2 linked regions of the Homo sapiens genome follow. The protein of the gene in region 1 purifies or fractionates together with the protein of each later gene. This does not show direct contact. Each region holds a gene or a part of one and is shown on either strand. Other genes may lie near its edges.

The links.
Region 2: the proteins of ZNF398 (region 1) and FERMT3 purify together in Homo sapiens (affinity purification with mass spectrometry; one large-scale study listed by BioGRID and IntAct). This does not show direct contact.

The regions. Positions count from the first base shown.
Region 1 is NC_000007.14:149,153,903-149,157,718, forward strand, and holds part of ZNF398 (zinc finger protein 398), read left to right. Parts: intron 1-42; coding exon 43-438; intron 439-3,816. UniProt on the Homo sapiens protein: Functions as a transcriptional activator.
Region 2 is NC_000011.10:64,213,191-64,217,006, forward strand, and holds part of FERMT3 (fermitin family homolog 3 short isoform), read left to right. Parts: intron 1-3,816. UniProt on the Homo sapiens protein: Plays a central role in cell adhesion in hematopoietic cells. Acts by activating the integrin beta-1-3 (ITGB1, ITGB2 and ITGB3). Required for integrin-mediated platelet adhesion and leukocyte adhesion to endothelial cells.

The sequences.
Region 1 (3,816 bases):
TCTAACACTCAATGTCTTGTTCCATCTTTCCACTGCATGCAGACATCTGAATGGGACTCCGAGTGCCTTACATCCCTGCAGCCCCTTCCTCTTCCTACACCCCCAGCAGCAAATGAGGCACACCTGCAGACAGCAGCTATCTCTCTGTGGACAGTGGTGGCCGCCGTGCAGGCTATAGAGAGGAAGGTGGAGATCCACAGCCGGCGACTCCTACACCTGGAAGGTCGGACAGGGACAGCAGAGAAGAAACTAGCCAGCTGTGAAAAGACAGTTACCGAGCTTGGGAACCAGCTGGAGGGCAAGTGGGCCGTGCTGGGAACCCTGCTGCAGGAGTACGGGCTGCTGCAGAGGCGGCTGGAGAACTTGGAGAACCTGCTGCGCAACAGGAACTTCTGGATCCTGCGGCTCCCTCCAGGTATTAAGGGAGATATCCCAAAGGTAATACCTTCATTTCTAGATGTAAAGTGGTACCACTAGAACTTACATTAGTAGTAGTCTTGGTCATTCAGTTACTTAGATTTTTTATTTCCTTTTAAAGTTTCTTAAAATATCTCAGTCTGAAAGAATCATGAAGGTGTTTTATGTTTGTCTATTTGGGAAACATTTTATGTTCAATTTAGTACCCATTTAGAGTGCCAAGATTCAGATTGGAAACCTCTTGCTGGACCAAAGTTGGCTATCTGGTAGATGGATTTTTTTTCTCTTTTGGTTTCTCCTACCCATTACCCATGAGCCGCTTCTTTCTTCGTTAACTTGTGTGCCAGATTCTTGGGGAGGAGACTACATAAATATTCTTTTAAATCAGTCAATTTGAGGCTGGGCGCGGTGGCTCATCCCAGCACTTTGGGAGGCTGAGATGGGCAGATACCTGAGGTCAGGAGTTTGAGACCATCCTGGCCAACGTGAGGAAACCCTGTCTCTACTAAAAATACAAAAATTAGCCGGGTGTGGTAGCACATGCCTATAATCCTAGCCACTCGGGAGGCTGAGGCTGGAGAATAGCTTGAACCCAGGAGTTGGAGGTTGCAGTGAGTCGAGATCATGCCACTGCATGCCAGGCTGGGCAACAAGAGCAAAACTCCTTCTAAAAAAAAAAAAAAAAGGCCTGGCGAGATGACTCACACCTGTAATCCCAGCATTTTGGGAGGCTGAGGCAGGTGGATCTCCTGAGGTCAGGAGTTCAAGACCAGCCTGGCCAACATGGTGAAACCCCGTCTCTACTTAAAATACAAAAATTGGCCAGGTGTGGTGGCTCACACCTGTAAACCCAGCACTTTGGGAGGCCGAGAAAGGCAGATCACAAGTTCAGGAGTTCAAGACTGGCCTGGCCAACAAGGCGAAACCCCATCTCTATTAAACATACAAAAATTAGCTGGGCTTGGTGGTGGGCGCCTTTAATCCCAGCTACTTGGGAAGCTGAGGCAGGAGAATCGCTTGAACCCGGGAGACAGAGGTTGCAGTGAGCTGAGATTGCGCCACTGCACTCCAGCCTGGGCAACAGAGTGAGACTCCGTCTCCAACAACGACAAAAAAGAAGAATCACCTGGTAGGCTTTTAAAATTTTGGTGAGCATCACATCCAGATTCTGACCTAATAGGTCCAGGATGGAGCTTAAGCATGAATAATTTTTTAAAAACCTCCATAGATGATTCTAATATATGACTAGGGTTGTGAATCACTGATGTGTAGGGCATTTAAGACCAAGGAAAGGAATTTGGATTTTTAACTAAGGTGTAATGAGGAGAAATTGGAGGGTTTGAAGCAGAGGAATTATATTTGGTTATATATATATATATATATATATATTTTTTTTTTTTTTTTTTTTTTAATTTTTTTTTTTTTGAGATGGAGTCTCACTCTGTTGCCCAGGCTGGAGTGCAGTGGCGCCATCTCGGCTCACTGCAAGCTCTGCCTCCCGGGTTCACGCCATTCTCCTGCCTCAGCCTCCTGAGTAGCTGGGACTACAGGCGTCCGTCACCATGCCCAGCTAATTTTTTGTATTTTTAGTAGAGACGGGGTTTCACCATGTTAGCCAGGATGGTCTTGATCTCCTGACCTCGTGATCCGCTCGCCTTGGCCTCCCAAAGTGCTGGGATTATAGGCATGAGCCACCGCGCCCGGCCAGTTTTATATATTGAAAGAATCCCTTTGGCTGCTTTGTGGAGGATGGATCGTAGGGGAAGAACTGAAGAAGGGAGGAAATACTAAGGCAGGGAGGGATGCAAGTGGCTTGGATGAGGGTAGCAGTTGTAGAGATGGAGAGAAGTGGACAGATGCAGGATGTTTGGTGGTAGAACTGACAATAAGAGTTACTGATGGGAAGGCAGGGTGCATTGGCTCACGCCTGTAATCCCACCACTTTGGGAGGTTGAGGCGGGCGGATCATGAGGTCAGGAGTTTGAGACCAGCCTGGCCAACATGATGAAACCCCGTCTCTACTAAAAATACAAAAAAATTAGCTGAGCGTGGTGGTGGGCACCTGTAATCCCAGCTACTTGGGAGGCTGAGGCAGGAGAATCGCTTGAAGTTGAGGGGGAGGTTGCAGTGAGCCGAGATCACGCCACTGCACTCCAGACCAGGCAACAGGGCGAGACTCCATCTCAAAAAAAAAAAAAAAAAAAAAAAGAGTTACTGATGGGAATTAGGAAATAAGGCATTAAGAACAGTAATTGTAGGCCAGGCGCAGTGGCTCACGCCTGTAATCCCAGCACTTTGGGAGGCCAAGGCAGGTGGATCACCTGAGGTGAGGAGTTTGAGACCAGCCTGACCAACATGGAGAAACCCCATCTCTACTAAATATACAAAAAAATTAGCTGGGCCTGGTGGCGCATACCCGTAATCCCAGCTACTTGGGAGGCTGAGGCAGGAGAATCGCTTGAACCCAGAAGGCGGAGATTGCGGTGAGGGGAGATTGTACCACTGAACTCCAGCCTGGGCAACAAGAGCGAAACTCCATTTCAAAAAAAAAAAAAAGAATAATTATAAATTTACTGTGTGGTAATTTAGTTAGAACTTACTATTCTAAGTGTTCTACTTATTTTAAGGCATATGAGTCTCAGAAGAACCCAACTTGCCCGAGGTCACATAGTTAATATAAATAACAAAGTTGTGTTTTAACTAGGTTGGCTCCAGAGCAGATGCTCTTAACCACGTTAGGTTTACTGTCTCAGGCTTTCGGCTTGAAGAACTGGGTAGATGGTGTTGGAGTTTCCTTGAGGGGAATACCTTGGGAAAGTGTGGCCTTGGGGGTGGGAGGAAATTAGGAGTTCCCCTTTGACAATGTTAGGTTTGAAATGCCTGTGATACTTTCAGGAGAGACGTTAAAAGTGGACTAAGAAAGTCCAGGACAGGGCGGGGCACGGTGGCTAATGCCTGTAATCCCAGCACTTTGGGAGGCCGAGGCGGGCGGATCACGAGGTCAGGAGATCGCGACCATCCTAGCTAACACGGCGAAACCCCGTCTCTACTAAAAAATATATAAAATTAGCCGGGCGTGGTGGCGAGCGTCTGTAGTCCCAGCTACTCGGGAGGCTGAGGCAGGAGAATGGCATGAACCCGGGAGGCGGAGCTTGCAGTGAGCCAAGATGGCGCCACTGCACTCCAGCCTGGGCGACAGAGACTCCGTCTCAAAAAAAAAAAAAGAAAATCCAGGACCAGCAGGGCGCGGTGGCTCACGCCTGTAATCCCAGCACTTTGGGAGGCCAAGGCAGGCGTATCACGAGGTCAAGAGATCGAGACCATTGTGGCCAACATGGTGAAATCCCGTCTCTACTAAAAGTACAAAAATTAGCTGGGCGTGGTGGCGCTCGCCTGTAG
Region 2 (3,816 bases), on another chromosome or scaffold:
TAATTTTTGTATTTTTTTAGTAGAGATGGAGTTTCACCATATTGGTCAGGCTGGTCTCGAACTCCTGACCTCAGGTGATCCACCTGCCTCAGCCTCCCAAAGTGCTGGGGTTATAGGAGTGTATTTTTTTAGTAGAGATGGAGTTTCACCATATTGGTCAGGCTGGTCTCGAACTCCTGACCTCAGGTGATCCACCCGCCTCAGCCTCCCAAATTGCTGGGGTAATAGGAGTGTATTTTTTTAGTAGAGATGGAGTTTCACCATATTGGTCAGGCTGGTCTCGAACTCCTGACCTCAGGTGATCCACCCGCCTCAGCCTCCCAAAGTGCTGGGGTTATAGGAGCGAGCCACTGCGCCTGGCCTAATTTTTTTTTTTTTTTTTTTGAGATGGAGTCTTGCTCTTGTTGCCCAGGCTGGAGTGCAATGACGTGATCTCAGGTCATCACAACCTCCGCCTCCTGGGTTCAAGCAGTTCTCCTGCCTCAGCCTCCCGAGTAGCTGGGATTACAGGCGTTGAGCCACCATGCCCAGCTAATTTTGTATTTTTAGTAGAGATGGACGGGGTTTCTCCATGTTGGTCAGACTGGTCTCGAACTCCTGACCTCAGGTGATTTGCCCACTTTGGCCTCCCAAAGTGCTGGGATTACAGGCGTGAGCCACGGCGTCGGGCCAGCTGTGCCTTTTTATTCTAGTGTTTTCTTCTCTATGACATATTTCCACTTCTTTGTTTTGCCATTTCACACATTATCTATTGACTTTGTAAGAAGGTTTCACTGTCTTACATTCTCTTCCCTGCCCACACAATACACACATTTCCTTGCCTCTTTCTAAGTGAGTAGTGTCTGTAGTCTTTGGTTAAAACAATGTGATATGGCTGTAAATAGTAACACATATAAATAGTGTTCCTAGTTAAGCCACAGAGTAACTATGATTATTTTTTCCCTTTTTGCTCAAATGGTTTTGAAGTTCATAATTGCCTTTTTTTTTTTTTTTTTTGAGATGAGTTTTGCTCTTGTTGCCCAGGCTGGAGTACAATGGCACAATCTCAGCTCACTGCAACCTCCACCTCGCGGATTCAAGCGATCTCCTGCTTCAGCCTCCCAAGTAGCTGGGACTGCAGGCACGCGCCACCATGCCCAGCTAACTGTATTTATTTATCTATTTTTGTTGTTGAGATGGAGTCTCGCTCTTGTTGCCCAGGCTAGAGTGCAATGGTGTGATCTTGGCTCACTGCAACCTCCGCCTCCCGGATTCAAGCGATTCTCCTGCCTCAGCCTCCCTAGTAGCTGGGATTACAGGCGCCCACCACCACGCCTGGCTAATTTTTTGTATTTTTAGTAGAGATGGGGTTTCACCATGTTGGTCAGGCTGGTCTCAAACTCCTGCCCTCAGGCGATCCACCTGCCTCAACCTCCCAATATGCTGGGATTACAGGCGTGAGCCACCATGCCTGGCCTACACTTTTCTTTCTTATTTTTCGGTTCTTTTTCTTTCTGTGTCCTACTCTCCGGAGACCTCTTCAACTTATCTTCTAAAATATCTATTGAATTTTTAATTTCTGTAACTATATTTTTAAGTTCCAAGAGCTCTTGTTTTTTGAGTGTTCTTTTATAGGGTTTTTTTTTTTTTGAGAGGGAGTTTCATTCTTGTTGCCCAGGCTGGAGTGCAATGGCGTGATCTCGGCCCACTGCAACCTCTGCCTCCTGGGTTCACGCGATTCTCCTGCCTCAGCCTCCCACATAGCTGGGATTACAGATGCCCACCGCCACCATGCCCAGCTAATTTCTTCTTGTATTTTGAGTAGAGATGGGATTTCACCATGTTGGCCAAGCTGGTCTCGAACTCCTGACCTCAGGTGATCCACCTGCCTTGGCCTCCCAAAGTGCTGGGATTACAGGCATGAGCCACCACGCCCGGCTCAGCTTATTTTTAACAAATGTGTATGGTTGTGCAACCATCACCACAATCCAGTTTTAGAACATTTCCACTGCCCCAGACAAGCACTGATTGCACGATGCCCATTTGCAGTCATTCCTCCTCCCACACCCCGACCACCACTGATCTGCTTTCCATGTGGCTTTAATTTACATTTCCCTGATGACTAATAAAGTTGAGTCCCTTTTCATAAGGCTATTAGCCATCTGGATATCCTGCTTTGTGAGGTTTCTGTTCAAACATTTTGACAATTGTCATATTGAGTCGTTTGTCTTTTTCTTATTGATTTGTAGGAGTTCTTTATATATTCTGGATATGAGCACTTTGCCAGATAAATACATTGTGAATATATTTTCCCCCTCTGTGCTTTGCCTTTTAATTGTCTGAATGGTTTCTTTTCATAAACAGCAGCTCTTTATTTTAATAGAACCAAATTTATATTTTTATCTTTCTTTTTTTATTTTTAGAGATGGGGTCTCGCTCTGTCACCCAGACTAGAGTGCAGTGGTGCGATCATAGCTCACTGCAACCTTGAACTCCTGGGCTCAAGCAATCTTCCTGCCTTAGCTTCCTGAGTGGCTGGGGCTACAGGCATGTGCCACAAGCCTGGCTAATTCTTTAAAAATTGTTTAGAGATGGAGTTTTGCTACGTTGCCCAGATTGGGTCTCAAGTTATCCTCCCGCTTCGGCTTCCTGAGAAGTTGGGATTTTTTTTTTTTTTTTAGACGGAGTCTCACTCTGTCACACTCAGGCTGGAGTGCAGTGGTACGATCTCGGCTTACTGCAACCTCCGCCTCCCGGGTTCAAGAGATTCCCCTGCCTCAGCCTCCTGAGTAGCTGGGATTATAGGCATCTGCCACCACACCCAACTAATTTTTGTATTTTTAGTAAAGACAGGATTTCACTATGTTGGTCAGGCTGGTCTCACACTCCTGACCTCAAATGATCCGCCCGCCTCGGCCTCCCAAAGTGCTAGGATTACACGCGTGAGCCACTGCGCCCAGTTACATTCCTTTAAAAAAAGAATATTCTGGTCTTGATTTATGAGTGCAGTGCTTTAGCTCTGTAAGGATTTTTTTTTTTTTTTTTGAGATGGAGTCTTCTTCTGTCACCCAGGCTGGAGTGCAATGGCAAGATCTCGGCTCACTGCAACCTCTGCCCCCCTGGTTCAAGCCATTCTCCTGCCTCAGCCTTCCGAGCAGCTGGGATTACAGGCATGCACCACCACGCCTGGCCTAATTATTTTTGTATTTTTAGTAGAGACGGGGTTTCACCACATTGGCCAGGCTGGTCTCAAACTCCTGACCTCGTGATCTGCCCGCTTCAGCCTCCCAAAGTGCTGGGATTACAGGCGTGAGCCACCGGGCCCAGCCTCTATAAGGATTTTTTCGCCGGGCGCGGTGGCTCACGCCTGTAATCCCAGCACTTTGGGAGGCCAAGGAGGGCGGACCATGAGGTCAGGAGATCGAGACCATCCTGGCTAACACGGTGAAACCCTGTCTCTACTAAAAATACAAAAAATTAGCCGGGCGTGGTGGTGGGCGCCTGTAGTCCCAGCTACTTGGGAGGCTGAGGCAAGAGAATGGCGTGAACCTGGGAGGCGGAGCTTGCAGTGAGCCGAGATCACGCCACTGCACTCCAGCCTGGGTGACAGAGCGAGACTCCATCTCAAAAAAAAAAAAAAAAAAAAAAGGCGGGTGCCACCATGCCCAGCTAATTTTTGTACTCTACAAGGATTTTGATTCACGTTTGAAGTTCTCTTCTGCGCCCTACCTGGCCTTTATTTCCTCCAAGCTGTTTTATTCTTGTTGTCTTGGTCTCTATGGTTCACTCTTGAAGCTTTCCTTAAATGTGGGTAGTCCATGCCTGTCCATTCATATT